Linked DNA regions of Homo sapiens. The protein of the gene in region 1 interacts with the protein of each later gene in a pairwise test. Each region holds a gene or a part of one and is shown on either strand. Other genes may lie near its edges.

Evidence for each region.
Region 2: the proteins of TMEM42 (region 1) and ELOVL4 interact in binary tests that used the Homo sapiens proteins (3 or more experiments, as listed by UniProt).
Region 3: the proteins of TMEM42 (region 1) and REEP2 interact in binary tests that used the Homo sapiens proteins (3 or more experiments, as listed by UniProt).
Region 4: the proteins of TMEM42 (region 1) and MTIF3 interact in binary tests that used the Homo sapiens proteins (3 or more experiments, as listed by UniProt).

What each region holds. Positions count from the first base shown.
Region 1 is NC_000003.12:44,856,740-44,865,019, reverse strand, and holds the start of TMEM42 (transmembrane protein 42), read right to left. Parts: upstream 3,109-8,280; 5' UTR 3,096-3,108; coding exon 2,904-3,095; intron 824-2,903; coding exon 677-823; intron 1-676.
Region 2 is NC_000006.12:79,923,458-79,930,739, forward strand, and holds part of ELOVL4 (very long chain fatty acid elongase 4), read right to left. Parts: intron 2,925-7,282; coding exon 2,737-2,924; intron 1,576-2,736; coding exon 1,495-1,575; intron 1-1,494. UniProt on the Homo sapiens protein: Catalyzes the first and rate-limiting reaction of the four reactions that constitute the long-chain fatty acids elongation cycle.
Region 3 is NC_000005.10:138,434,026-138,442,202, forward strand, and holds the start of REEP2 (receptor expression-enhancing protein 2), read left to right. Parts: upstream 1-5,031; 5' UTR 5,032-5,183; coding exon 5,184-5,215; intron 5,216-6,915; exon of another isoform or gene 6,916-6,990; coding exon 6,991-7,063; intron 7,064-7,359; coding exon 7,360-7,436; intron 7,437-8,177. Other genes in the region: KDM3B (lysine-specific demethylase 3B), read left to right, coding at 1,595-1,675. UniProt on the Homo sapiens protein: Required for endoplasmic reticulum (ER) network formation, shaping and remodeling. May enhance the cell surface expression of odorant receptors.
Region 4 is NC_000013.11:27,440,533-27,447,814, forward strand, and holds part of MTIF3 (translation initiation factor IF-3, mitochondrial), read right to left. Parts: intron 4,625-7,282; 5' UTR 4,556-4,624; intron 711-4,555; exon of another isoform or gene 485-710; intron 1-484. UniProt on the Homo sapiens protein: IF-3 binds to the 28S ribosomal subunit and shifts the equilibrium between 55S ribosomes and their 39S and 28S subunits in favor of the free subunits, thus enhancing the availability of 28S subunits on which protein synthesis initiation begins.

The DNA.
Region 1 (8,280 bases):
TGAGGGACTCAACTTCAGCAGGTGGGCACAACCTCACTCTCCTGGGACTGACTTCCTTCTAAGGGTGCCAGGAGGAAAGGTCTGGAGCCAGAAGCCTTGGGCTTGAAACCTAGCTGTCACCTTCATCAAGTCACTCTATTCAATCTCCCCTGCATGAGTGGAGAGGCTACCTCCCTCACTGCACTGGACCTCAGCAAAGTACACAAGAAAGACCCAGCAGATGCCAGCAGGTAGACACAGCAGGTACATGGTATTTGTTTCTCCCTCAACTCAAGATTGACTACGCTCAGCTCCATCTTGTCAACCTCAGACTACACAGGGCAGAAAAGTTTCTGGGAATCCCAACCCTCTAAATGCCATGGAGCCTTGAGTACACAGAACCCTAGGAAACAGCTAGGATGCACAGTGACTTCAGAATGAGGGCTCCACCCTGGAGGAACAGCAAGCAAGTAGGCTTTTTACTGTCAGGCTTCACTCATATCTAACTTAAGAATTCTTCCATGATTAGAATTACATTTGCTCCATGAATAGAGCACTCATCCAGGGGTCAAGCCACAGCCCAACCTCTGCTTCAGTTCCTGTCCTTTCTCCTGTCTGGGAAAGGAGGGGTTATCCAAAGACAACTCACCCAGAACCCAGATTTAGGACAAGAGCACCACACCCTCAGGCTACTCACCGAGCTGAGGATATTTGAAAAAGTCACTGTGACAGATGCAATGGCTGAAGACATGGAGAAACTGAGGCCCCGGCTAAAGAAGGTCCACATCAGAGAATTGGTGCTCGCCATCACAATAATGCCTAAGACGCATAAACCCATGCTCACCTGCAGGAGAAAGTGTCACTGCAGCCACGTCCACCCTGGGCAGCAACCTGCAGACCCCCTCAAAGCACACCCAGGACTGTGGTTGCTGGCACCCAGGCTCCTACTGAGCTCCCACTACAGCTCAGAGGGCCTCAGAGCTTTCCTGCACAGGGCTTCACTTAACCCTCAGTGGGCAGCAGACCCATCTTACAAATAAAGCAAATTCAGAGAAGATACTCATTTGGCCACCTTGCTGGCCATATGATCTTGGGAAGAAGCAAAATGCTAATCCAAAGCCAGTATTTTCTACTGAACACCGGCCCCTTATTGGTCCCACAATGACCAGTGCTTGAAGATCAGTCCCAGAGGGCCAAGTAGTTCTTACTCCGTAGGTAGTAAGCCTAGGGTAGAGTTCTTATTTCTTGAGATCAGGCAAAGCATGAATTAGCAATGTCTGCTCTGTATTCCCACCCCCAAATCCTATACAAGTTACAGCCCACTAAGGCTGACCCCCTCTGGGTATTCTTGAGCTTTTACTCTGTGTTAGGTCCTGGGCTGTGTTTAAGCATTCTCATTTATTCCTTAACTTCATTTTACAGATAAAGAGCCAGGGGCATTAAGTAACCTTCCTAAAGTGCTACAGCGGTGAGAGCCACCAGGCTTCACAAGCAGGCAGTGTACCTCCATGCTCTTAACTAGGGCACAGCCTTGCCTGAGGGAAACACCACCTCAGACTATTTAGTGATCCCAGACATCCCTTGGAGAACTTGCAGGTATTTTCTTTCTTTTTTTTTAAAGGAGAAAGTCTCAAGAGAAGAGAAGATCTTTAGAAGCCTCCTACACAAAGGATATGCAGTCCCCCTTGCTTGGTGGTGAGTTAGAAACCTGCCTGGAGACAAGGCGGCGGGGGGGGGGGGTGCGGAATCTAAATATACTTATTACTTGTAATGGTTTCTCAGCAGCTGAACACATAGTGTCTTGAGAAAAAGGTGCTTGCTTATAACTTACACCAGGGTGTTCAATTTTTTGGCTTCCCTGGGCCACACTGGAAGAACTGTCTTGGGTCACACATATAATACACTAACACTAATGATATATGATGAGCTAAAAAAAAAATAATAAATCGCAAAAAAATTCATGTTTTAAATTTGCAAATTTGCGTTGGGCCGCGAGTTGGACAACCTTGTCTTACACAAAGCAGCATATGGGCCAGTGGCAACCTGCTTAAAGGGTTATGAAGGTCTAGTTCCTGACAACAAACTTCACGGCCCATACAAAGTTATTCATTTTACTTTCGACCACTTACCCCATGAACTACACCCAATGGGATACTAACCTGAAGCATGGCAGCTACTACTGGATTAGCCCTAAATAGGCTTAACCCTAAATAATCAGTGACCACTGTCCAGGTCAGAGGCTAACCTTGGGCTGCAGACGCAATGAAACCCCTATAGCAAGCAGAGGCTGGTCTACGACGTGGGAGGGAGAGGCAGAGATACACCTTAGCAGACGCCAGGATGCAAGTTTAGGAGTTCTCAGCGTCAGGAAAACATCCAGAACGTCTCTGTCAGTATCCTCTTATGCCTACAGTATCCCAAACTCCCAATTTTCCTGGTAGTGGGGCAGACTGGTCATCTGGTCACAACACCCGTTAATTACGGAGTAAAGGGATGGGCAAGAGGCTTCTCACCTTAAGAGTCACGTGGAGAGAAATGCTCAGGCACAAGGGACTTAAAATGAGAGGTAGAGGGTGGATGTAGGAGGTGTAGTTCTTCCCCGAGAGCGAACTAGCCCAACCGGAGAAAAGGTTTTAGGTCCCTGGTAAGGGAAGAGGCCTCAGTCCCCGACGTCTCTTACCACCTACACTGGACGAGGGTTTGGCGTGATTAGAGGCGAAACACTCTCTGCCACCCCAGCTGACCGCAGCGCCGCCCGCGGCCCGGGGCCCCGGCGGGACAGACCGGCGAGGGTGCGGCGGCGCCCTGCGCCCACCCCCGCCCCACCCCAAGAGCCCCGCGGGCCCCGCAGCGCCCCTCCTCCGCCCAGCGGCGCCCCGCCCGCCCGCCCGCAGCAGCAGCACCAACAGCGCCCCGGGCTCGACCTCGCTGCCGAAGGCCAGCTTGGCGGAGGCGGCGGCCAGGGCCCCGAACGCGCCGGCGCACAGACAGTTGAATACGCCCCAAAAGCGGCGCCGCATCGCACCCGCCTGGAGGTGCGGAGGGAATTCCGCGGGGGTGTCAGGGTACGCGGTCGCGGACACGGCGCCGCCCGGAGGCCCCGGCCTCTCGGCCATGTTGCCTGCTGACACCGTGCCTGGCACCCGCTGCCCGCAGGGCAGAGCGCGCGCCGCGATTGGATGGCAGCCTCACGTGACGCGACGCTCCTGTGACGCCACGCTCCGGCAGGCCCCTTGGGAATCGCTCTCCGGCGCCTCGGAGGGGGCGGGCCAGGTGGCAGAGACCCTGGGCTGTGGCGGCCTCCGGCCTAACCTGTAGTAGGTTTGTGCTCTGGGGAGGACGTCGGGACCCGAGGCCTGAGGCCAAGCCGGGTACTGTGGACGCTGTGGTAGAAGGTAAACTTCTCGCGGCTTAGCCGTCTCCATCCCGGCCACCCGGCTCCCGGTGAAACTTATTAAAGATGCCTAACGGGCCCCGCGCCGGCCCACCGAGTCCATCCACGTCGACCAGGCTTCTCCGCTCCACCCTCCAGCCTGAGGACCGCCGGACCAAGAGATGCCTCGGCAGAGGGCGCTGGGGACCTCCAGACCCAGAAAGACGCCAGAGCCCCATATGGGGACAAGCGCATCACAGAAAACCGAAAAAATGAGGATCTGCGATGAGAGGAAGACAATGATCCATAATCAAGCCACGCAGAATCAACATGACTTCTAATCTCCTGTTATACTTACGTATGTTTAGAATGTTTCCGGCTGGGCGTGGTGGCTCATGCCTGTAATCCCAGCACTTTGGGAGGCCGAGGCGGGTGGATCACCTGAGGTCGGGAGTTCGAGACCAGCCTGACCAACATAGAGAAACCCCGTCTCTACTAAAAATACAAAATTAGCCGGGCGTGGTGGTGCATGCCTGTAATCCCAGCTACTCGGGAGGCCGAGGCAGGAGAAGCGCTTGAACCTGGGAGGTGAAGGTTGTGGTGAGCTGAGATCATGCCATTGCACTCCAGCCTGGCCAACAAGAGTGAACTCCGTCTCAAAAAATAAAAATAAAAATAAAATGTTCCCATTTAAAAAGTACACGTCCTTGAAAATAAAGTGTTGAAATGTATAAAGTGCTATTTCCACTCTCCAGGAAAATCAGTGTTAATAGAGCATTTTTCTATATGTCTATTTAGTTATATATAGTTAAAATGTTAAAAAAATTATAGAATATGTATATGCATTTTTTAAACAAAAATGATTTCACAGTTGAACATACTGTTTAGCAGCATTCTTTTTGTATCTTCTGTTTAGCAAGTTTTTATGGAAGTCCTTCCACACCATGCTGCTTCTCTCACAGGGTGGTTTTGTGGCTCAAATAAAAGCACGGATAAGGCCAGGCACGGTGGCTCACGCCTGTAATCCCAGCACTTTGGGAGGCCAAAGGTGGGTGGATTACGAGGTCAGGAGTTCAAGACCAGATTGGTCAAGATGGTGAAACTCCATCTCTACTAAAAATACAAAAAAAATTAGCTGGGTGTGGTGGCGGGCACCTGTATTCCCAGCTACTTGGGAAGCTGAGGCAGAGAATTGTTTGAACCCAGGAGGCAGAGGTTGCAGTGAGCCGAAATTGCACCACTGCCCTCCAGCCTGGGTGACAGAGTAAGGCTCTGTCTCAAAAAAAAACACGGATAATTTCAGTAACGCCAATATGGTACAAACTGTCCCATTTTGCAGATGAGGAAATTGAGGCTCAGAGGTCTCACTGCACCACTCCATTGAGTAAGGAGCTGCTCAAAGATGATACCCTCTGAAAGCTCTTATCAGGAAATCAAGAGGTGTTGCATTGATCAACTCTGCATGCTTTAAAGAATGTAAAGCAAATTTTCTTAGAACAAACGATGCCTCTACTAGCACTAAAGGTTAAGCATCTCAGAGCCACCTCCTCTGTAAAGCCGTCTCTGCTACTCCCCTACCTTTGTACCAGTCCTGTGGTTGTTCCTCTGGTTGTCTGTTTCTCTGCTAGCCTGCAAGCTCCTTGAGGGCAGGGACTACATCGTTGTTAATCTCCAGGTCCCCAGCCCTGGTGATGATGGCTGAAGTGATGCCATCCTCAGACACTGCTGGGAAGTGATTTCTGCCTCTAAGAAACTCCTGTGTACACACATCACCTAGGGATCTTGCTAAGATGAAGATTCTCATTAGGTCTAGAGCTAGACTGAATTTTGTTTGTTTTTAGAGGGAGACAGAGTCTCTCTGTCACCCAGGCTAGAGTGCAATGGTGTAATCATGGCTCACTTCAGCCTTGAGCTCCCAGGCTGAAGCCATCCTCTCAGCTCAGCCTCCTGAGTAACTAAGACTACAGGCAGGTACCATCAAGCCCAGATTATATATATATGTATTTTTTGAGACAGGGTCCTGCTCTGTCTGCCAGGCTGGAGTACAGTGGTGGATCATAGCTCACTGCAGCCTCAACCTGCTGGGCTCAAGTGATTCTCCCACTTCAGCTTCCTGAGTAGCAGGGACTATGGGTGCATCATGCCTGGCTAATTTTTGTATTTTTTGTATAGACAGGATTTTGACATGTGGCCCAGGCTGGTCTTGAACCCCTGGGCCCAAGTGATCCACCCACCTTGGCCTCCCAAAGTGCTGGGATTACGGACATGAGCCACCGCACCCAAGCCGCCAGCTCCAAAAATTAGATTCCAGCCCTCAAAACCCACAACAGGACCTAATTAACCTCGCCTTCAAGGTGTACAATAATAGAGTAAAGGCAGCCAAGTAGCAATGTTTTTCTGAGTTGCAATTAGTTGCCTCCACTGTGAGAGAAACCCCAGCCACATCTCCAGCACACAAGAACTTCAAAACGTCTGAACCGCAGTGGCCAGGCTTTCCTCCAGGACCGCCTCCCACAGGAGCTTGCTTAAAGTGCCATAAATCTGGCCACTGGGCCAAGAAATGCCCACAGCCCTGGGATTCCTCCTAAGCCGTGTCCCAACTGTGCGGGACCCCACTGGAAATCAGACTGTCCAGCTTGCCCTGCAGCCACTCCCAGAGCCCCTGGAACTCTGGCCCGGGGCTCTCTGACTGACTCCTTCCCATATCTTCTCAGCTTAGCAGCTGAAGACTGATGCTGCCCGATCGCCTTGGAGGCCCCCTGGACCGTCACGGACACCGAGCTTCGGGTAACTTTTACAGTGGAGGATAAGTCCATCCCCTTCTTAATCAATACAGAGGCTACCAACTCCACATTATCTTCTTTTCAAGGGCCTGTTTCCCTTGCCTCCATAACTGTTGTGGGTATTGACGGCTAGGCTTCTAAACCTCTTAAAACTCCCCAACTCTGGTGCCAACTTGGACAACGTTCTTTAATGCACTCCTTTTTAGTTATCCCCACTTGCCCAGTTCCCTTATTAGGCTGAAATATTTAACCAAATTATCTGCTTCCCTGATTATTCCTGGACTACAGCCACATCTCATTGCCACCCTTCTTCCCAACCGAAAGCCTCCTTTGTGTCTTCCTCTCGTATCCCCCCCACCTTAACCCACAAGTATGGGACACCTCCACTCCCTCCCTGGCAACCCATCACACGCGCATTACTATCCCATTAAAACCTAATCACCCTTACCCTGCTCAATGCCAGTATCCCATCCCACAACAGGCTTTAAGGGGATTAAAGCCTGTTATCACTCGCCTGCTACAGCATGGGCTTCTAAAACCTATAAACTCTCCTTACAATTCTCCCATTTTACCTATTCAAAAACCGGACAAGTCTTACAGGTTAGTTCAGGATCTGCGCCTTATCAACCAAATTATTTTGCCTATCCACCCTGTAGTGCCCAACCTGTACACTCTTTAGTCCTCAATACCTTCCTCCACAACTCACTATTCCATTCTTGATCTTAAAGATGCTTTTTTCACTATTCCCCTACACCCCTCGTCCCAGCCTCTGCTTTTACCTGGACTGACCCTGACACCCATCAGTCCCAGCAGCTTACCTGGGCTGTACTGCCGCAAGGCTTCAGGGACAGCACTCATTACTTCAGCCAAGCTCTTTCTCTTGATTTACTTTCTTTCCACCCTTCTGCTTCTCACCTTATTCAATATATTGATGACCTTCTACTTTGTAGCCCCTCCTTTGAATCTTCTCAACAGGACACCCTCCTGCTCCTTCAACATTTATTCTCCAAGGGATATTGGGTATCCCCCTCCAAAGCTCAATTTCTTCTCCATCCGTTACCTACCTCGGCATAATTCTTCATAAAAACATACGTGCTCTCTCTGCCGATCATGTCTGACTGATCTCTCAAACCCCAACCCCTTCTACAAAACAACAACTCCTTTCCTTCCTGGACATGGTTGGATACTTTCGACTTTGGATACCTGGTTTTGCCATCCTAACAAAACCGTTAAATAAACTCACAAAAGGAAATCTAGCCGACCCTATAGATCCTAAATCTTTTCCCCACTCCTCTTTCCGTTCCTTGAAGACAGCTTTAGAGACTGCTCCTGCACTAGCTCTCTGTGACTCATCCCAACCCTTTTCATTACACACAGCCAAAGTGCAGGGCTGTGCAGTCGGAATTCTTACACAAGGACCAGGACCGCGCCCCATAGCCTTTTTGTCCAAACAACTTGACCTTACTGTTTTAGGCTGGCCATTATGTCTCCGTGCAGCGGCTGCTGCTGCCCTAATACTTTTAGAGGCCCTAAAAATCACAAACTATGCTCAACTCACTTTCTACAGTTCTCATAATTTCCAAAATCTATTTTCTTCCTCCCACTTGATGCATATACTTTCTGCTTCCCGACTCCTTCAGCTATCCTCACTCTTTGTTGAGTCTCCCACAGTTACCATTTTTCTGGCCCGGACTTCAGTCCGGCCTCCCACATTATTCTGGATACCAAACTAGACCCCCATGACTGTATCTCTCTGATCCACCTGACATTCACTCCATTTCCCTATATTTCCTTCTTTCCTGTTCCTCATCCTGATCACACTTGGTTTACTGATGGCAGTTCCACCAGGCCTAATTGCCACTCACCAGCAAAACAGGCTATGCTGTAGTATCTTCCACATCTATCATTGAGGCTACCGCTCTGCCCTCCTCCACTACCTCTCAGCAAGCCGAACTCACTGCCTTAACTCAGGCCCTCACTCTTGCAAAAGGACTACGTGTCAGTATTTATACTGACTCTATGCCTTCCATATCCTGCACCACCATGCTGTTATATGGGCAGAAAGAGGTTTCCTCACTACGCAAGGGTCCTCCATCATTAAGGCCTCCTTAATAAAAACTCTTCTCAAGGCCGCTTTACTTCCAA
Region 2 (7,282 bases), on another chromosome or scaffold:
TATGCATACTCCCAGAAGTCAGTCAGTCAAACACTTATCCCTGTTCCCTTCCCTACGGCAAGCAAGAAGTCAGCCCTCCAACTGAAGAGATTCTTTGGCAATAGTTATCAGAAGAAAATTTTTCATAGCCAATACATCTGAGTAGTCTCTCATTTTCTCTCAGTCACCTTCTAGGTTTTATTTCCTCCTTAGTCATTTGTTTACATGGCTGCTGTCTGCCTTCTCACCCTCACTAAAATGCCAGCCCCACAAAGGCAGGGCTTTTCACCCCTGTCCCCAGTACCAACATATAGTAGATGCTCAATACATATTTAATGAATAAATAAAACCAACATGACAACCAAGACAGGTGATTTTTCATCAGTCCATAAGTCTTCTAATAGGGAAATGAAGATACGTACATAAAATTGTTAAGTACATTAAACCAATTTTGTCTCCAGTCTTGATGAATACTGATATTTATATATTGTCCACTCCCCATGCCAGGAAACTATTTTTCTCAAGGGAAGCCACTAGATATTATTACTACATATACTATAGGTAACATAAAACATGTTATGTTTTATATGTAATTTCTAGTATGAACCACAGTATATAAGAAGAGTTCAATAAATACGTAATAGAATAAGGTAATCTGTTGTTTCTTTTGCTTAATGTTAATTTTACTCATGTAAGTGAATGGAAAATAAAATATAACATCTTGTTACTAGTGTTTTATTTTTCTGCAAATATAAAAAAACTGAGTTTATGCCAATACAAATTGTTCTATGCCTAATTTCCTAAATATTCCACACTTCACAAAACATTTACTTTTCCTCACTTTCTTAACACATAACTTGGACTCTAAGAGTTTCTACTCTTGAGCAAAAACAAACAAACAAAAATCTAAAATAATGTCTTTAAAATAAACATGAGACTTCTTTGCTTTAACAAGTACTGCATTCTAGTAATTCAATGCATATTCACTCATGCTGCAAAATAAAAAACATTTTTGAGATACAAAAACAAATTTTAAATTAAGTACTTTTTAAAAAAGCATAGTTTTACTGACTCATAACAATCTAGTATAATTTCACTATCATATTAAAGTACATTTTGCCAGGTGTGGTGGCTCACACCTGTAATCTCAGCACTTTGGGAGGCTGAGGCAAGAGGATCCCTTGCGGCTGGGAGTTCAAGACCAGACTGGGCAACATAGCAAGACCCTGTCTCTACAAAAAGTAAAAAAATATCTAGGCATGGTGGGGTACACCCGTAGTCCCAGCTACTTGGGAGGCTGAGGCAGAAGGATCAATTGAGCCCAGGAGTTTGAGGCTGCAGTGAGCTATGATCATACCACTGCACTTCAGTCTGGGGGACAGAGCAAGAAACTGTCTCTAAATGAATGTTAAAGAAACTGTCTCTTAAAAAAAAGTACATTCTATATTTTCACAGACTGGGGCCTATAAAAATCAAACCACTTTTACTGATTAAGAGTATTTTTAATGTACTTACCCTGACTTCATGAACATTATTAGAATAATCCACACTCTGGCAAATATAGCTATATCCCGCATTATATGATCCCATGAATAACTGGAAAAAGAGTAATAATATTTGTAGTAAAGTTTTAGTAAACACAGCATTAAAAACACAATTATATACAAAATGTAGCCTTTCAAATTATTTTAAACACAATATTTTCTTTAAAAATTTCAAATGCATTAAAAATTTCATGCATTCCGATTGCTAGAAGTTACTGTGCATTAATTTGTTCTATAATTAAAATCTAAATTAAAAATCACATGTAAATTTTATACTGAACATTGACTCTATCTATTAAATACTTCACAGTATTAAGAGAAATTTTTATTGCTAGGACTCAGATTTCAAAGTTGTCCTACCTTAACTGGTTTCTATGTTTGATCCAGAGTGGTTTGCATCTAACAAATTAGGTACAGGTATCCAAATAAATTAAAGTGTTCATGAAGTTGAGACTCGAGGCTAAGTTTTCAAGTAAAGAAATATTTCTTTTTCTAAGAAGAGTTATTGTTTATTTTCCTAGCATTACTAGTCAGTTCTCTGGCTTCATACAGAATTTTAATGAGTCTCTTAGGAAACAAATTCTTTATACATATGCAATTTAAAAAATGGCTGTGTCAATCTAGCCTTTAGGATTTCCTTTGAAAATGTTGTGGAGAATTTGCTAGTGCCCAGAAAAGTATATAATGATTAGTAACAACAGCTATATGGCAGTTAATTCATTTTAATTCCAGCCCAAAATACAACATTATGTAATAGGATTTACTTGAAATTGGCATATTTTGATCAGTTACCAAACCAGAAACTACTGAATAAGAATTATAAATAAATAGCTGCTACTGTTTACTGAGTGCTTAATACGTGCCAAACACTATGCAAAAATTATCTTACTTTACTCCGATAATAACCTGAGATGGTAGGTATTTAAGTGGGGAAAACGAGGCTAAGAAAAGTTAAATAACTTTCAATGCCAGAACAGCTAATAAGGGTTACTTTAGAATCCAGTTGGTCTTATTCAAAATTCCACTTTAAACAACTTTCCTATACCTCATGTTTAATATTTTTGTTATTCAAAAGTGAAAAATGTCAAAAATGTACTTTTAGAGTAGCTAACAGTTATGTCTGGGTAAAATATTACAATGATGGTTTTACACATTCTCATTTTTAAATTTCCAATAACCTTGGAAAATTATTAAAGTGATCTTAAAAACATACCTCTCTGAAGATAAAGAGGTTAAGCAAAACCATCCCAAAATTATAGATAATGAGCACTAGACGCATCTGAAAAGGTTCTCGGTCCTTCATCCATTTTGGACCCAGCCACACAAACAGGAGATAAAGAGTGCTTATACTTAGTGTAGGCCAAGGAGACTGCATCAGAGGCCAATTTTCCACACGCTTATCTATAGAGAGAACAAAATACCATAAAATTCATTAATCAGTAAATGTTTTATAAAATACACTTTTTAGGAATCAAGATGTTTCAACTTAATTTCCTAATTTGACTAAATACGGATCACTGTCCTTTGAGTCCCAACAAAAAATACATGGTATAAAAACCAAAGAAACAATACTGACTCCTGCAAGTGGCTTTTGAAAATTATGCTTCATTACTTATGTCACACATTATGTTTTACAGAGACCCTACAGAACAAAAACAAGAAATAAAGCGCACTAAAAACAGAGGTGGTTATCTTGGGATGAAAAGTTAATGAAAAACTTCATACACAGAAAATAAATATGTTAAGGAAACATTTGTCTTCCATATTATACACGTGAAATTTATCAGGGCAGCTTGGAGGCTGCTCTGTGTGTCCACTCCTAAAGCAGGCAAGAATGTAACTGGAGAGGTACGTACGGGGCGATGGTAGCCATTTGCTGAAATATCTCGAGACACTGAAGACAAGAGTACAGGGGCACTGAGAGATTAAGTTAGGGTTAATTACAATTCTATAATGTAAACAGTCACCATATTCAAGACATTTTTCTAACTTTTTCATTGAGAACATGCACCTATTTTATTCCCATGAATAACTAACTTGAATGTTTTTCTCTAGAGCTGTAAATCGCATAACTTACATATGTGTAACTATATATATAAAATGCAACACATTATTTTACTTAAAATGAATTGATTGTCCAGCATATTCAAATACACAACCATAAATCAATTTTATAATGGAATGTTGCCACAAGTAAAACATTTCTGAAACAAGCATGATAATGAAATATGGATGGGATTAACAAAAATTCATCTTTTAACACATTATAAAAATATATTAATATTAATTTTTATATTTCTAAAAGCTAAACAACAGTTGAAGGTTGCAAATCTAATTTCTAGTTTATTCTTGGCAATGCAAAACATTTTATGTCGTATTTTGAAGAAATAATGTATTTTTAAAGTAGTAAAAGAAAATTCAACTTCTTAGAACCAACCTAAATGAATTTAACTTAATTGTTGATCATAATAACTCCCTATTTAAACTGTCATTTTTACTAAAGCCTGTATATGCAAAATGCTTCTGGATTAGTGAACTAGGTATTAAAATACCTTACTTAAAAAATTAATCTGTGTCTATATACTGTCAATAGACAGTAAGATACAAGATACGAAACACAATATTTAATCAAACAATTTGCAAAGTCAGGAAATGACACAACTATGGTTTTAATGAAATCAGAGTTGTTAAGAAGGTGAGCTATTGCTTGATGACTCGAGATATGGGAAAAAAAGGTGATAATGACTTGAAAGAAAAACACATATGGGAACCAGGAAAACAGAAAAACTGATTTTATTTCATAGTTTTAAAAGGAGGTCTACTATTCATAGAGATTATGGCTATATCACTCAAATCAAACACATTTCAGAGTTAAAAATAAACCAATATATTTGAACCACAGGAGAGATGGTAAACTTCTCACAAGGAGGAAATGACTTAAAAGATAGCACGGCTGACTTTTGTTAAAAAGGCGTTGTGCCACGAAGGTCTTATCAGTGACTGTTCACTTTTCTTAATGGCATTTTATCATTTTATGTTCATTATCATTCTATGACCATATCTTTCTATGCTAAAGGCCCCCTATAAAACATGAGGTGTGCATCTACTTAGGTATTTCTTTTTCTATATTATAGAAAAAAAAAGATTTAGACAAACCCCCTATATTAGAGAAGAAACATTTAGACAAACTCTCTGTTCTAGGTCACAGAGAAGGAGTTGCTGTGGTATCCTGTTCTTTTCCACCAACTTTAAGGCAGGCGCTGTTTTTCCCATGAGACTTATACAAAGAGCAAAAGTACTCTGATTAATGCCATACTCCATGTAACAAAGAAAGGAAGATAAATGTATCTGTGAGGAGATTTTAATTCCTAACATCATAGATTATCTCTCACCCTTACCACACACAGAATTCCTACTGACTTCAAAGAAAGTTCTGAGTAGCGGGTAGAAAAAAAAAATTAAAGAAATAGGTCCAAACCTCTGCCAGAAATTAAGAGTAAGTAAAAGTGCTCATTCTTTTTGATGTACAGTGTGGTATGCTGTATCGTTTTCATTCAACAGAGAAATTTAAAGAGAGGACTACCACAGGAGAGAGGGAAAGAGACACTAGTGAGAAGCTGAAGATCTTACAATATGAAACACTAATAGAGGCCAATAGAAGAGTAAAAAAGTAAAGAGAAACAGGAAATAACAGAGGCATCAGAGAAAGCACACAAGACCCTACCAGTAAGTAGACTGGTGACTGGGTTTTTTTTTTTTTTTTTTTTTTTTTTTTAAGAAATGGAGTCTCATTCTATTGTCCAGACTAGAGGGCAGTGGTGCACACATGGCTCACTGCAGCCTCCACCTCCAGGGCTCAAGTGATCCACCTGCCTCAGCCTCCTGAGTTGCTGATGCCACAAATTATAAGTAAATAAAAATGTTCATTCTTTTTTATATATAGTGTGGTGCACTGTTGTTCTCTCATTCAACAGAGAATTTCCAAAAGAGAGAAGGAAAGAGGCACTAGTAAGAAGCCACCATGACCAGCTGACTGGCTGAGTTCTAACACTGGCTCTGCTACTGTGCATAGGACCTTAGGAGCACAATCTATCTTCATTTCCTCCATCTGTAAAACTGGATGGGAAGTAGGTGAACCAGATTAGTGCTTCTCCAGTTTCAATGAGAAAACGAATCACCAGGTTGGGGAGGGGGGCGGGTGGGCATGGTAAAAATGCAGATTTTGAGACAGTGGGTCAGATATGCAGCCCATTTCTTTTCTTTTCTTTTTTCTTTTTTGAGACAGAGTCTCGTTGTGTCACCTAGGCTGGAGTAAAGTAGCACGATCTCCGTCCACTGCAGGCTCAGCCTCCTGAGCTCAAGCCATCCTCCCACCTCAGACTCCCAAGTAGCTGGTCCTACAGGCACACGCCAACACACCCTATTACTTTTTGTATTTTTTGTAGAGACAGGATTTTGTCATGCTGCCTAGGCTGGTCTCAAACTCCTAAACTCAAGCAATCCATCCACCTTGGCCTCCCAAAGTGTTAGGATTACAGGCGTGAGCCACCATGCCCAGCCCATGCAGCCCATTTCTAAGAAGACCACATTTTCCAGGAAGCTCTAACTGATGCTATGCCATTATTCCATGGACCATCCCCTTTTGAGCAGTAACAAACTACATGATCATTTAGGTTTATTTTAACTTCTGAAAATTGTTACTTTTAAAAATAATTATTAGGAGGAAGAATAGACTAATGGTGAGGAAAACTGGATCAAGAAAATTTTAACTGGTCAGGGGACGCATTTTGCATGACCAGAGCACCTGCACATGTTACTATTCCATTACAGCACTCATTACACTGTCCAGTGACCTTCTTTTAAACTGTTTTCTCCCTGAAAAGAGGGGCTGGGTGTTTCATTCTTGTATTGCAAGGCCTATCAAAGTACCTAAAAATATATTTGATGAATAAATAAAGAGTAGATAATTTTTTCACACTATTCCTCTATTCTCTATCCTTTCTGCCAAATCCAAAAGCACATTTGTTGATATTCAAGGTTTCCTCAGTGTCCAAGAACCCTTCCTAGAGCTTTTCCCAGATCCTCCTCTATGCTGGCATAATAACTTTATCCTCAAGTCAACAACTCATCAACCTAGTATTTAGTGAATATATGTGCTCTACAAAGCTCAATGACCTTTTACTTCATTCCTTACTCCAGGGGAAAAAAGCAATGCCCTCACTTCTTTGCCCAACAATGCAAGGCATGCATTCATTCAACAACCACTTAACAAATCCCTGTTTTCAGCCTATAAAAGGCCACATTTTACACCATACCCTTCTCAAATTAGCCCTTCTAGTTCAGCAGGGTCAGAGAGCTTTCAAAAATTCAGCCTCCCAGGATTATCATGGAAGCTACAGTAACTGTCAACCCCTAATCCACAGCATAACAATTCCCAACCTTTTAATAATATTTGGATGAAATTCCTCCATGTCTTTACATGTTATAATACTATACTAGTTATGTTTGTTTTTCTGCATGTATTTGCATTAATATTTCCTTTAGTGCTTCTGATGAGATGCAAATATTCTATATTTCTTTCATATGTTTCCTTTTCCACTAAAAAGGGCTGTGTCACAATAGTGCCATACAACGATATGAAAATTCATCATTACTAACAGTTCCACCTGAGTTTTAAACCAAAAAAAGGTTGGGGGGCTAAAACAGTAAAGGAAAATCATGAATACTAATGCTTCATGTATTTTATGTAAACTTTAAAT
Region 3 (8,177 bases), on another chromosome or scaffold:
CACCGTGCCCGTCCAACATTGGTGTTTACATAGAATGAGAATATAAAGGTAACATGTCACCTTATCCATAACACCTTTCCCGAGCTAGGGATGTTGGGTGTGTTTCTGCAGTCCCAGCCACTCAGGAGGCTGAGGTGGGAGGATTACTTGAGCCCAGGAGTTTTGAAGCTCTCGTGACCTATGATCACCCCACTACACTCCAGCCTGGGCAACAGACTCTGTCTCTTTATTTAAAAACAACAGGCTGGGCGCGGTGGCTCACGCCTGTAATCCCAACACTTTGGGAGGCCGAGGTGGGCAGATCACAAGGTCAGGAGTTCGAGACCAGCCTGGCCAATATGGCGAAACCCCGTCTCTACTAAAAATACAAAAATTAGCCAGGCATGGTGGTGGGCGCCTGTAGTCCCAGCTACTTGGGAGGCTGAGGCTGGAGAATCGCTTGAACCCAGGAGGCGGAGGTTGCAGTGAGCTGAGATGGCGCCACTGCACTCCAGCGTGGGCAACAGTGTTAGACTCCATCTCAAAAAAAAAAAAAAAAGACCTTTCCTGACTACCCTGTTTAGAATAACAACTCCTGCTCCAGCACTACCAGTCCCACTTTCACTACTTTATTTTTCCTGTAGTATTTTCACCATCTGAGATATAGCTATAGATACAGATATAGATATATTTTTTTAATCTGTTACTTAACCCTACTAGAATGTAAGCTATTTAAGCTCTGTGAAGGCAGGAATTTTACATTTTACTCACTGCTTTTCCTTAGCACAATGTCTGACACATAGTAGGTATTCATAAATCTTTGTTGAAGCAATGCAAAAAAATTAATGGAGAATAGTAAAAGAAGGACTTGGATGCCCATGACCCAGCTTAAGAAATTATAGCACACATACATATACAGCAACTACATGGTTGAAGCCCCCATGTACCCTTCCCCTTTGCATTTCCCCGCTTTTCCTCCCCAGAAATAACCTCAGTTTTCTTGTCAGCCCTTTAAAAGAAAGCTGTCTTTATTCTCTTCACCTTAATATGCCTGTTCACTTTTTTCAATAACTTTTATTGTGTGTTCCAATTTCACAGGTAATATATCCAAATCAGAAAACATATAAGCACGAAGGGAAAAAATAGGCCATAATCCTGCTTTCCCCTCTTGTTTTAATGCATCCTTATTAGCTGTAGAACCTTAAGGAAGCCTCTTAACCATATAAGGAAACAAAGTTCTCCAGGTGTTCACTGTGGCCTTAGTTTCCGCAGTTTCTCCTCTGTAAATTGGGCATGATAATAATAGAACCTACCTCATAGGATTCTGTCAAGGATTAAGCAAAGGTCCACATAAAGAGCTCAGCAGCAGCGCCTGCCCAGGACATAGTAAGCACATAAATGATGGTGATCAGATGGCCTTTCACATAACTTCATTATTCTTTTTTGAGTACACACCTCATGCCCTATGTGATTTGTAAATGACTGTGGGGATTGATACAGGAACGCACAGTCCTTTTTGGGAGTTTCCCCACTAAACCAGTAGGCTTACAGTCAAGGTAGAACGTACATTTGCATGGGGCTGCTGTGAACTGACTTTGCTGTACACCTTCTCTAGGTGAAGAACATCATTTACCATGCAGTGAAAGATGCGGTTGGCACCCTCAAGGCTCATGAATCCAAACTGGCAAGGTCCTAGGCATGGAGAAACTCCAAGCTCCTCTGTGAAGCAGGTCTTTCACTCACAACACTTAACAGGGAACGGCAGGGCTCTTTGCTGGAGCAGAGGCCCTTCACCCAGAGCCAGTGTGGTCAGTATTCCAAACTCTCCAGCCACTCTCTTCTACGCTGCCTCAACACTGAAGGTTGACACAGGAAAGTCGTACTGTTCACACACACAGTTTGAGACTCCAAGCCAAGAGTGCCACATCCCTATCCTGTGGCCTTTTGGAAATCCAAATTGCCTGAACATGGCGGGGCTTTCCTGCACATTCTCCTGATTTGAGATTCACGGGCACACCTTTCTTTTCTTTTCCTCTTGTGCCTAGTTAAGTGGAAATGTGTTTGGAGATAGGGGAAATCACATAACTGGTACAAGTATGGGGTAATTGCTTAAACATGCCTGGTGGAAGTCTGATAGCGTCTCTGCACGTGACCTCTGACAAAGCCCATCCCAGGAGACGGGGTGAAGCTATTCCCCACACTCTCCTGTGAACACTGGAGTCTTGCAAGACCCAGGGAGAACCCACTGCTTTTCCCAGGAGGCTCCAGGATTAGGAAATGTGTGTATTTAGTGAAAAATAGGTTTGTAGTGAAATAGTTACTATTTCATGAAAGTAGATATTTTTAGAATTTTTGAAATACCACAGTTGTTTTCCTGGATTATAAGGAAAGGCACATTACATTTAGTCTTCCTTTCGATATAAAACTCTTTGAAGAAATATGATTTTTAGAAATCAGCTACCCATTATAGCACAAAATCAGCCAAAGCAGAATTTTTAAAAATTGGCTTTTTTAGGATTCTTTTTCTCCCCCTCCCATCTTAGTCTTACCTTGAGGGAACAGTCATATGAGAAGGAACTTTGTCACATCTAAGCTGTGGTGTGTTCCCCATGTGTGTGTACAACACTGGTGACTCCAGGAACCATTTTCACCTATTACCAGTGTTCCCTGGGGACTCCTCTTAATGTTTCCAAATGGGAAGGACAGTTGATTTCCAACATGAGGTTTTTTGTTTTTTATCCAGAAATATTTTCAGCAAAACTTTCCAACTGAGTGGAGTCTGATTAAGGATTTATTTGAAAATGGTGGGATTCATTGGCCCATAGGTACATTGGAAAATGTATATCTCTCCAGCTGTACTGTAGTGCCCTGCAGGCTGTTTATATGTTCACAGTTACTTTTTTTTTTTTTTTTAAATAAAAGTCATTTAATGTAGAATACTTTTAATTTCACTTTCTGTATTTTAATTTTGTTGAAGGGCTGATTGGGATTTCCATGTTCTTATTAAAAATCTAACAAATCTGTTTGGAGTGGACTAAATTATTCGTGTACCAACCCTTCTAAAATCAACATCAGATTGGGAGTTGGGTTGGAGGTGGGGGATTCATTTCCAGGTCTTCATGACTGTGCTACACCCAGATATTTTTCTTTGCTTGTTGAGACTGTGCCATGTTAGAAAAAAGGAAAGTGCCAGGGTGAGGTCAGTATGGTTTGGGGAATTGGGGGTAAGGGGAAGGGGCCACATGAATTAGAGGGTAGAAAGAGAGACATGTTTCCCCATACTTTATGCTTTGTGAATGGAGTGGGAAAGTTGGGGTCCTCCCTTCCTGTGGCAGAGTCTGGGGGGAAGGGTCATGGTGTGTGGCCTCAGCAAAGTTGGACAGTCTGTGGTGGGATTCTTAAGCAGGCAGCCTGGCTGCCTACATGAAACGTGTGGCCATAGATCCACCTTAGAGATGGTGGGAGACACTCATGTGGGATTTATCAAGCAGTAATTAAAGTGTTTCATTGTGGGGTGATAACAGACTGCATTCCAATTAGGAGATGTTTTCTGGAGAGGAAGTTGTAAAGAATAGCAAGAGGGGTTATCAGAGGCTGCTTTTCTGGAACGTTTTGGGAAACATCTTCCAAAGTGTTTGAACCTGGAAATATAATTTACCAGGTTAGAAATAGACCATTGTGTTGTTCAGGGATACTGAGCTTGAATAAGACCATGACTCTTTGAAATACACAGTTCTGAATGTGTCCTTTCAGCCCAGATGGGCACAGGTTGATGCTGTGGTCACCCGAAGGATTACAACTCAACATAAAGGGTAGAGGAATGCAGAAGCTCTAAAATGGGACAGGAAAGGAGAGCAATAGGGCTGGGGGTGTTGGTGGATGGTTGGAGGTTGGTTGCTTTCCTGAAGATCAGGAGGCAGGCTAGCCTACATTCTGGATATAAATGTCTTTAGAATCAGGACATTCACTGCCACTAGTGCTTGCTGATGGGGGTGGAACTGGAGCCCCAGGACCCTCTCGCAGCCCCTCTGTTTGAAAAGAAGGTTGACCCTTTGTTGTCAGTAACCACATTGAGAGCATAAAGCTCTGTTCCGCTGCAAAGCTTAGGAGCTGACAACCTAAAAAAGCAGACCAGCAGCCCGGTGGCTCACACCAGTGATCCCAGCACTTTGGGAGGCTGAGGCGGGTGGATCGCTTGAGCTCAGGAGTTGGAGATCAGCCTGGGCAATATTGCAAAACCCCATCTTGGCAAAAAAAAACAAAAAACAAAAAAACAGGAATTAGCTGGTGGTGTTTTGGGCCTGTAGTCCCAGCTACTCGGGAGGCTGAGGCGGGAGGATCATTCAAGCCCAGGAGGTGTGCTGAGATTGTGCCACTGCACTCCAGCCTGAGCGACAGAGTGAGGACCTGTCTCAAAAAAACAAAACATCATCTGGTCAGGGGAGATCCTCTTTCAACGGGGTGAGAAGGAGTGGGGTGGACAGGTGCGGCTGTACCTGTGACTCAGGAGCTCAGGTGGATGTCTTCAGGGCCTGTAATGAGGAGAGTTTGCTAGTCAGCAGTTGGGGGATGTAACCTGTTTAAAGTAGGCTTCCTGGGGTCATCTTAGCAGCATGACTTGGTGGCTTTGTGACTCTCAACAGATTATTGAGCCTTAAGCTTCTCATTCCCTTATCTTCAAAATGAGGGCTTTTATAGCGCCTGCCTTATAGGGTGGTCAAGAGGATTCACTGGCAACGCAGTGAAGCTCTTAGCACAGGGGCTGGCACACAGTAAGCGCCTGGTGTGGGCAGGGCAGGAGGTGGGCAGGGGTCGATTTCAGGATGTAACCATGGAGACCTCCACGACAACAGCCTAGGGCTTGAAACCCAAGAAAGATGAACAAGCGATTCGAGGAAGGCAGGGCACTGAGGGTCGGAGGCGCATGCCCGGCCACAGCAGGTGCCGGGGCGGGGGCGCGCCGCCGCCGCCGCGGCGGCCTCCCGGCCTCCCCTTTAAGAGCCGCCACCGCCCACGGCCCGCCGCTGCGGCAGGGACCTCCCCTTTAACGGCGGCGCTGGGCGCTCCGCTGCCCCCGCGGCGGCTGCTGCAGCGGCTGCTGCTGCTACTGCGGCTCCTGCTGCCGCCGCCGCCGCCGCTCGGCCTCAGGCAGCTGCATCCTCGGCCGGGCCGGGTCCCCGCCCCGCGCCGCGCCCGGCCCCGCCATGGTGTCCTGGATCATCTCTCGCCTGGTGGTGTGAGTGCGGCGGCGGCGGGGGGTGATGCGGGCTGTGATGGAGGGCGGGGGTGTTAAAGCCCGGGTGGACTTCTCCGAAGCTTCGTGCAGCAGAGTCACCTAAAGGCGCTGCGTCCTTATTTGGGGCCCCCAGAGACATGGAGATGTGGCACCCAGGACTGGAGGGGGGAATATTAGGGGAGCGTGGCAGGCCTGGCTTCCCAGGGACCTCACCCACATTCTTTATTAATAACCTCTTTTATTTCTACCGTCCTTGCTCCTGCGCCCATCCTAGAGGCTGAGCAGCACGGCTTGATTTAAAAGGGGAGGCAGGCGCGTCCCCTCCCCCACCTAGCAGGTCTGGGCTGGAGGAGATCCTCAGACCCGGGCCCTGTCCCTCTGGGGGAGGTAACAGGGTGATGGAAGAGAGTGGAGCAAGGCAGGGCCTCATCATCATTCCGCAGCTCAGAGCCATCACCAGGCCCCTTGGTCTCTCCCTTCCACTCACTGTCAGGAGACTGGGGACGAGGGCATATGCCCTTAGGCCCCCTAGGGAGGAAGTCTGGGTATCGGGAAGCAGAAATGCTCGGAGGACAAAGTGTGAGAGGTAACTGGGAGAGGGGATGTGTGTGCTCAGCCTGGGATTGTGGACCCCGCTGGGGGAGGACGCTCCGTGGCCTTCATTCCAGGCTGCCAGCCACACTGTGGAGCTGTGTCTCTGGCACCTCCCCGGGCCCCAGGAGGGAACACACACCATTCCCCACGAGCCCAGACTTTGTCCTTGAGGATTCTGCTCCGCACTCCACTTGCACCAGCCGGTTTGGAAGTATCCCTCCTGTCCATGTGGAAACAGGCGACAGCCACACATTGTCAAGGGGCTGAGCCTGACAGGGGCTCCTCGTGGTTCTCGGAGCTATCCCCTGCCCTAATGAGGACACTGCCCCTCGGCCTCCACCGTTGGGGACTGACACCGGCAGCCCCACCCTGCTCCCTTCTTCCCATTCGGTACAGCCGGGCCGGCCAAGTGCTTCTGTCCTGGTTTACTCTAGACTCCTTCTCTTCCCCCACCCATCCCAGGGGGAATGGAGGGGCCTCACGCCTCCATGTGGCCTTCAGGGTGGCTGCTTCTCTCTTGCCTGGGCAAGCCCCAAAGGGCATCGGTCCTCTTCTTTCCCGGCCTGTGTCTTGTCTGCATTCTGTACTTGGATCACCAGCGGGGCCCTCCCCTGAGCCCTGTCCCTGTGGTGTTTACATGGGGGAATAAGCCTCTTTGCCTCTCTCAGGGCCTCCTGCCCCTGTGCCCTCTGTTCCCTAGGGCCCCAGGGCCACAGTGGTACCTCTGCCTGCCAGGTAGGGTGCCCTGTTAGGTGGTGTCAGGTTCCCTCGCAGAGCCTGGCTCTGAGGGAGGTGGAGGGTAAGGGCAGATGGGTGTGAATGGGCATGAGGTCAAGAAGGAAGACACCCTGTGGCAGTGACCTGACTCCCAGTCTCCATGACATATTTGTGTGTAACCAAGGATCATGGCGCAAGGGACTACATTGGACCCTCTGGCCTCTGGGCCTTTCCCTGCCTCCGGGGCTAGAGAAAAACTGAACAGTGGAGCGGGGAGGGGGCATCACCCTACCTGGCTGGGCATGTTCCATGCTGCTTTGACCTTAACCCCTGACCTGAGTTCATCAGTCCAGCGGGGAGTTCTGTCTCTCTTCCCATTACTTACCCAGGGGCTGATGCGGAGCTGGGAGGGAGAGGCCACTGCCCTTGGCTGAGAGGCCCAGTAACCATGCCTGCCTCCCTAGGCTCATCTTTGGCACCCTGTACCCAGCCTATTCTTCCTACAAGGCCGTGAAGACAAAAAACGTGAAGGAATATGTGAGTGGATGACCCTTCACCCCCTACCCAACCCACATGGCACAGAGAGGGGAGGGCACTGGGTCCTATTACAGATGGGGGTGACTTTGCACCAACACTGTCAGCCACTAACAAGACCCACCAGCAAAGGAGGGCCCTGGGTGTCCCACACAGCGCCTCCAACATGGCTGGCAGGCAGAAGTGGGGTCCTTGGTGTTCTCCCCAGCCCAGGCATGTTCAACAGGCAGAGCTGGGGTCCTGGGTGTCCCTGGCCCCTCAGCCCCGTGCCCCAGCCAGCGCTTCCCTCTGTCCCTCAGGTGAAATGGATGATGTACTGGATCGTCTTTGCCTTCTTCACCACGGCCGAGACGCTCACGGATATAGTGCTCTCCTGGTGAGGTCCAGCGTCCCCTCCTGTATCTCAGGGCCCAGGGCCTCTGCCTTTCTCTACCCAGCCAGCCAAACAAAAGACTGGGCCTGGGGGTGAAGCTCCTCCCATTCCTGACAATTTCATGGGGTCCTTGATATCTCCCCTCTCATGCCTAACTTGACCTGCAGAAGAACAGACATAGTAGTGCCAGGCGAGGGGGCTCACACCTGTAATCCCAGCACTTTGGGAGGTCTAAGTGGGTGGATCATTTGAGGTCAGGAGTTTGAGACCAGCCTGGCCAACATGGTGAAACCCCGTCTCCACTAAAAATACAAAAAAAAAATAGCTGGGCATGGTGGCGCCCCTGTAATCCCAGCTACTAGGGAGGCTGAGGCAAGAGAATTGCTTGAACCCAGGAGGTAGAGGTTGCAGTGAGCCGAGATCGCGCCATTGCACTCCAGCCTGGGCAACAGAGTGAGACTCCGTCTCAAAAAAAAAACAAACAAACAAGGAGTAAGAACAAACATAATCCCCATGTTTCTTTCTGGCGGCAGCCAGAGCCCCTCAGTGGAATTCAGGAAACCCGCTTCTGCCATGCTGCCTGCGACCTTAGGCAGGTCACAGCTCTCGAGGCCTCAGTTTCCTTATTTGTAAAATAGGCATATGATTCACTCCTATAAATGCTGGATACTTGCATTTCCAAGGCATTTTCCAGGCTGTACTAGACTACGTATGTATGAGCACTTTGAGGACAGGGAATATGTC
Region 4 (7,282 bases), on another chromosome or scaffold:
TGAGGTTGTGGAGGCTGTAACTGCAAGTGTGAGGGAAATGCTGTTCTCTAGACTTTCAGATCCACACACAGGAAGTCTACACTGATAAAGCGGACTAGCAGGTGACTCTGGCCAGACTAACTCATGGTGATACTGTCCCCAAGACAAGTGGCTATTAGAATAAACCAGATTTACATAGCATTTTGGTTTCACTTTTTTTTTTTTTCTGTACACATGATCTCATTTGACTACTTAGTTGACCCCTGAACAACTTGGGAGTTAGGGAAACAGACCCCCTGTGCAGTTGAAAATCTGTGTATAACTTTGACTCCTCAAAAACTTACTAATAGCTTACTGTTGACTGAAAGCCTTATGAATAACATAAGCAGTTGATTAACACATATTTTGTATGCCATATGTATTATATACTGTATTCTTACAATACAGCAAGCTAGAGAAAAGAAATGTCATTAAGAAAATCATAAAGAAGAGAAAATATATTTACTATTAAGTGGAAGTGGATCACCATAAAGGTCTTCATCCTCATTGTCTTCACATCAAGTAGGCTGAGGAGGAGGAGCAAGAGGAGGGGTTGGTCTTCTCTCAGGGGTGGCAAAGGTGGAGGAAAATCCACATATATGTGGACCCCATGCAGTTCAAACCTGTGTTGTTCTAGGATCAACTGTATTTCTCATGCATCTTGTAGTGCCAACTCCAAAAGCGAGTGTCATCTTAGGGCTTTATTTATGAGGATGCAGTACATAAAATGCTTGGTGATTCATAAACACCAATTGATAAACTTCTAATATAATTAACTGTTAACAATTTTTCAATACATCTGATGGTATATAGCAGATAGGAACACACTATGGGAAAGGGACCTCTCCAGGAAGGAAGCCAGCCCACTGCAAGAATAACTGAGCCTGTCAGAAAACACTGTGACATAAATCAAAGTGCTAACCTCATAAACTATAAAGATCATTCTCAAGGTAAGGCAGGTGTTAATTACTACCAAATGTTAACAGAGGCATGTATGGTGACAGTGGTTTTACTTCATGGTTATGAGACTGAATTTGAAGCACTTACAAATGGCACATTGATTTTTTAATTGCTTTTCTGTCCTTCCATTCATGTATTTGGTAAATCTTAGAAGTACAGGCTGAAAGAGTGCTGAGAGGACCCATTCATCTCATCTAGGGCATGCTAGGAATCATTAGAGAATCACAAACTTGGAGAGGTGTGACTTGTCAAAGATGAAAGAGGAAAACAGAAGGTGTCTTCAGGGTGCTTCTCAAAGAATGGTCCCAGAATCTCCTGGGGTGTTTAAAACTGGAAGTTCCCTCTGGTCCCTGGCTTTGAGCCCACTGGGCTGTACAACCCACTTATCTCTCACCTGTCATGTTCAAGAGTGATATGCAAAAAAATATGGTAAATTCAACAGAAAGTGATGGACATGCATATTCTCAACACCCTCCTTACCTAGTTTGGTAACACCCAACACTCTAATTTATAGCTCTGGTGCCAGTCTCTTCTCTTGAGTTCCACACCTGTAGGGTTAACCGCCTACCCAACCTCTCCACTTAGATATGTAATAGTCATTGAGGATTAACGTGTTCAAAGTTCAATGCTTTGCCTTCCATGCAAAACTTGCTCCTCCCTCAGTCTTCCCTGTCTCATGTAATTGCAACACATTCTTCTGGTTGCTCAGGCCAAAAATACCAACGTTATCCTTGACTCTTTATTTTCTCTCAGCAACCCATCCGCAAAACCTACCGTTCAACCAGTATAACCACTTCTCACCTTCTCTACTGCTATCATCCCACTCCCAAACCGCCGCGCCGCTCAACTGCATCACAGTAAAACCGCATCACAGTAACAGCTTCCCGACTGCTCTTCCTGCCTCTGCCCTCACAGCCTGGAGTTTATTACTGCTAGGGCACACAGAGCAATCCTTAAAAATGCGTAAGTCAGATCACGTTCCTCCTCTGCCCACACCCTCCCCTGGCTAGTATCTCACTCCAAGTAAAAGCTAAGCTCTCTACCATGCCCACTGGCCTGTGCCGACCGTACTTCTTCTGGCTCACTCTGTTCCAGCCTCCTTGCTGTTCCTTGTGAACAGTGAACACACCCCTCCTCTGGGTCCTGGCACCCAGAAGTTCTCTCTCCCTGCAACACTCTTCCCTCAGATAGCCTCATGGTTCATTTACCTCGTCTCTGCTCAAACGCTACCTACTCAGCGAGCCCTTCCCTGACCCTTCCATAAAAGAGCACACCCCAACACTCTCAAACCCATTACCTTGCCTTTTAAAAACTTTACTGCATTCATCACTGCTGGACACATTCTATATTTATTTGCATATATGTTCATAATCTTTCCTCACTGGAATGAAAGCTTCATGAGAACATGGACTTTGTCCATTTTGTTCACTGCTGTGTTCCCCGGCACTACAGCTCAGAGCCTGGCTCAGCATGCACATGTCGAATGAATGCACGGGCCGAAGGAAACAGCCAAGGAGCTATGGCAGGGCTGCTGGCATTTAACCTCTACACCTTCGGATGTGTCACGAATGCCTACAAACTACACCCTTCACATTTCTAGCTGGCATTTCAGATGCCCGTCAGTAATGGTGAGTATCTGTGGCCAGATGCTCCATCCACAGTGTATGACATGCATTGATTTATGGTTATTACCCAGCTGGTGGCTCCAGCTGTAGATGCTGTAAAGGCTCTAAGGTGGGAGCAAAGTGATTTTAAATCACTGACATACTGTTTAATAAAAAGTCAGATCTTTTGTGAATGGAGGAAGCCCCCAAACCAAAAAAGAAGAAAAATCTGAAAAGATCACAGAAGATTTTTTTTTCACTTATCAGAAAACTAGCAGCAGCATCCAGTCCCAAATGTCACTAGGTATTCTGCTAGGGGACTCTTAAGTTCCTGCTCACAAGCCTGCTCTATAAACTTTATGTCTAAAATCAGTGTTGTTTCTTTCCAAAGTCTGTATTAGCGACAATGATGTAGAAGTTATCACATGTAAAATCATGTTACTAAATAGATAGATATAAATTCTAATATTCTTGATATATACAGTAGACAAAACAGTTCACTGCAATTAAGCTTTAATACTAACTCAGTACTGGCTATCTTTTTCCCTTAGTAGTTATGAATAAGAGCTAAAGTGCCTTGTTTAATAAATTATCAACATATTAAAATATAAAAAATTTCAAAATTTGATTTTTTTCAAACAAGCAAACAAAATAACTAGATATAGGAAAAGATGAAAAAAATTTATAAAAATGTTGAAGACAAAAGCAATTCATTCCCCTATTTTTCCTAATTGCCAGTATTTCTCAAGTTTTTTTATAAGTGTTATTTTTATACTTGAAAATAAATTTTATTTACAAAATAAAGACTATTTCAGAAAAATGACGTAGGTTTTTTAAAAAAGCTTTAAAAACACTTTCCAAGAAGGAAACAAAGGAAAGGGAAAGAATAGAAAAACACTGGAAGTAGGGCCGGGTGCAGTGGCTCACGCCTGTAACCCCAGCACTTTGGGAGGCTGAGGTGGGCGGATCACAAGGTCAGGAGATCGAGACCATCCTGGCTAACACAGTGAAACCCTGTCTCTACTAAAAAATAAAATAAAAATTAGCTGGGCGTGGTGGCGGGCGCCTGTAGTCCCGGCTACTCGGGAGGCTGAGGCAGGAGAATGGCGTGAACCCGGGAGGCGGAGCTAGCAGTGAGCGAGATTGCGCCACTGCACTCCAGCCTGGGCGACAGAGCGAGACTCTGTCTCAAAAAAAACGAAAAAAAAAAGAAAAACACTGGAAGTATATAACTTTTAAAGTTCTTTGCCACTAGTTTAAATTTTTAAGAAACTTCAATTTTTATTGATGTATACAGCAAACAATGCAATTCATTGCAATTAAGCTTTAATACTAACTCAATACTGGCTTTAAATCAGCAAAATTGAAAATATACGTTTCTTCAAAACAGGCCCTTATAGATAAAAATATAAATACAAAGTTAAAACAACCTGTAATATTACATTTAAATTGCAGCTATCAACATAAATTCATAATTTAAAAACTTTTTATTAGGGAACTTTTTAACCTTGTACAGAAAGAACTGGATAATAAACAGCAGCTGGGTTTCATCTTTACCCCTCAACTATCTCCCCCCAACCATCCAGGAATGCTTTCAAAGTAAATCCTACTTTTTCAGGAAATAGTATGTATCTCTAAGAGGTACTCCTTAATCTTTTTAGTATTCACAATATTATCCCAATTAAAAAACGTTCCTTTATTTCATCAAATATTTAGCTTTCAGATTTCCATGATGGTATTATGATTTTGTTTGTTTACATGTCATTTACAGTTTGGCAGCATGAAGAGACTCCCACTGGTCAATTTTGGTGTAATTTAAACAGTAAGGCATAATCACTGTCATTCATTTCAATATACTGAATATACAAAAATCTATGAAAATGATAATTTGCCACAACTGCATGGGACTATTATATTGATTTTTTACTTTGAAAATTGCTAATTAAATAAAAAGAACTGAGCATTTATCCTACCTTTTTTAGGAAGAACTGTAATCATCCCCAGTTGATGAGGAGAAGCTCTTCTGTAGAGAAGAATGACAGCTAATAAACACAAAAGAAAAGTAAAAGTAATTAGAAAATCATGCCACGCACGATGTCTCACACCTGTAATCCCAGCACTTTGGGAGGCCAAGGCGAGAGGATCACTTAAGGCCAGGAGTTTGAGACCAGCCCGGGACACACAGCAAGACCCAGTCTCTACAAAAAATAAATTAGCCAGGTGTGTTGACACGCAACTGTACTCCCAGCTACTGGGGAGGCTGAGGAAGGAGGTTCACTTGAGCCCAGGAGGTTGAGGCTGCAGTGAGCTCTGATCACACCACTGCACTCCAGTCTGGACAACAGAGCAAGACCCTGTTTCAAAAAAAAAAAAAGAAAATCACCATTTTTCCAACCCCAACGAAACTACTGATTCAGGCAGGATGCAAGAGAGCTGATGCCAAAGGGTCACAAACAGATTACTTTCAGACTGAGAGGGAAAAGCACACTCTGCTGAGGGTAGACAGCTGTCTGTCATCCTAAGCCAACGTCAGACTCAGCATCTCCAACAGTGGAACAACCTGCCATCCTTGCCACATCTCTGGATGGGAAGCTACCCAAAGTGCATGGCACCTTCTATTAAGCAGCTTTGCCAAAAAGGTTTGACCTGAACCTGATGCAGGGTCTAGCTTCCAGTTTCCAGGGGATACAAGGGCCAGACTCAGAGAAACAATAGAAGATGCCACAAGGAAACAATCTGACAAATCCAGATGGAACAAGACACCTGGTTAGTGTCTAAAAAAGCCAATGCCATTGGGAATGAAAAGGGAAGAGGGAAGCTATTCTTGAGTGAAAAAAAAAATCAAGGAGACATAATTTTGCTGAAAAGAAATGTTGGGAATGAGGGGAAAATCTGAATAGGGACTAGGTATTAGATACTATTAGAGACGTATTGTTAATTTTCTTTTTTCTTTTTTTTTTGAGACAGGTTCTCACTCTGTCACCCAGACTGGAGTGCAGTGGGGCAATCTCGGCTCACTGCAACCTCCGCCTCCCAGGTTCAAGTGATTCTCCTGCTTCAGCCTCCCAAGTAGCCGGGATTACAGGTGTGCACCACTACCGCCTGGCTAATTTTTGTATTTTTAGTAGAGATGGGGTTTTACCATGTTGGCCAGGCTGGTCTCGATCTCCTGACCTCAAATGATCCACCTGCCTTGGCCTCCTGAAGTGTTGGGATTACGGGCGTGAGCCACGGCACCCGCCTGTTAATTTTCTTAGGTGTGAAAATGGAATTCTTAAGAAACAAATGCTGAAGTATTTAGGATAGTGTCATGACATCTATCACTTGCTTTGAAACCATACAGCAGAAAATATAAACAATGCACTTACGGCAGCATTTGCTAAATCTAGGTTATGGTTATACGGGTGTTCAATAATTAATACATTTTTAAAGAACAAATCAATAGCCTAGAGGGAGGAATGGTTCACTGGTAATGCCAATGTAACTATTCTAGTCTGTGTAAGTTCTAAATTTCACTGTAATTTAATACATTGACATTCTGGCTTTGTACATAATTTTAAAAAATATTCCCTTTATTCGTTTCAAGCCTATATCTAAGTGACCCATAAATAAGGAACTTTATAAACTTAAAATTCTGATTTTTTTGTAATGCATAGTGCCTTTATTTCTTCATTTAGTTTTCCTTAAACTCAGGTCTAAAAGTCTCATCATAAATGGTGATGGGGGCGGATGGGAAGGAGGCTGGCATAAAAAAAGTACACATTAGGTACAATGTATACGATTCGGGTGATGGTGCACTAAAATCTCAGAATTCACCACTATATAATTCGTCCATGTAATGAAAAACCACTTGCAGTCCAAAAGCTACTGAAATAAAAATTTTAGAAGAATAAAACAAATGGTGATGGTTTCAGTTTGAGGCAGAACTTGTACAATTTTTTGCTAGTGAACGGTTAAAAGTTAACTGGTCTACAATGGGGTGGTGTTTCTCAGAAACCACGGCCTGTCGGCATCACCTGGGGATGCTTTTCAAAACACAGATGTTTCCTCTTCCCTATCCTGTTCAGAACCAGTGGGTTAGGCCAAAAAAAAAAAAAAAAAGATGAACTTTAAGAAAAAGAGTAAGAAAACACTATAAGTGGGGTCAAGGGTAGTTTGAGCTAGGATGCCTGAGACTACCCCTAACCTTTCAAAGTTGAATAAAAATAGGAAGCCATGTTCTCTGATGAAAATCTCTGATGCCTCTGTGAGGTAAACAACACTAGGCTGAAGAGGCCAGGAGACTAACTCAAAATAGAAACAAACGCTTACGTTCTTATGATAATCCTGTTGCATTTGCTGCACTCACTCCCACAACTATACTCTCCGAGACAGCCACAATATTCTAAAAACCAATTATCTTAATGTCAATTACTTATAATGCATAACTTTATAGTATGATATCCATTTTTAATTCGATGATTACTCAGACTTTATCTGAGTTTTGACAAGTGCATATACCTTTGTAACCAAAACTCCTATCGACAGAACATCACCATTATCCCAGGAAGTTCCCTCTTGCCATTTCCAAGTCAATCTCCATCCCCAAGAGGCAACTATTGTTCTGATTTTTTCCCATCAGTCTGTCCTAAGACTTCATATAAATGGAACCAAACAATATCTACTCTTTGTTGTAAGACATCTCAGCATGTTTCGAGATT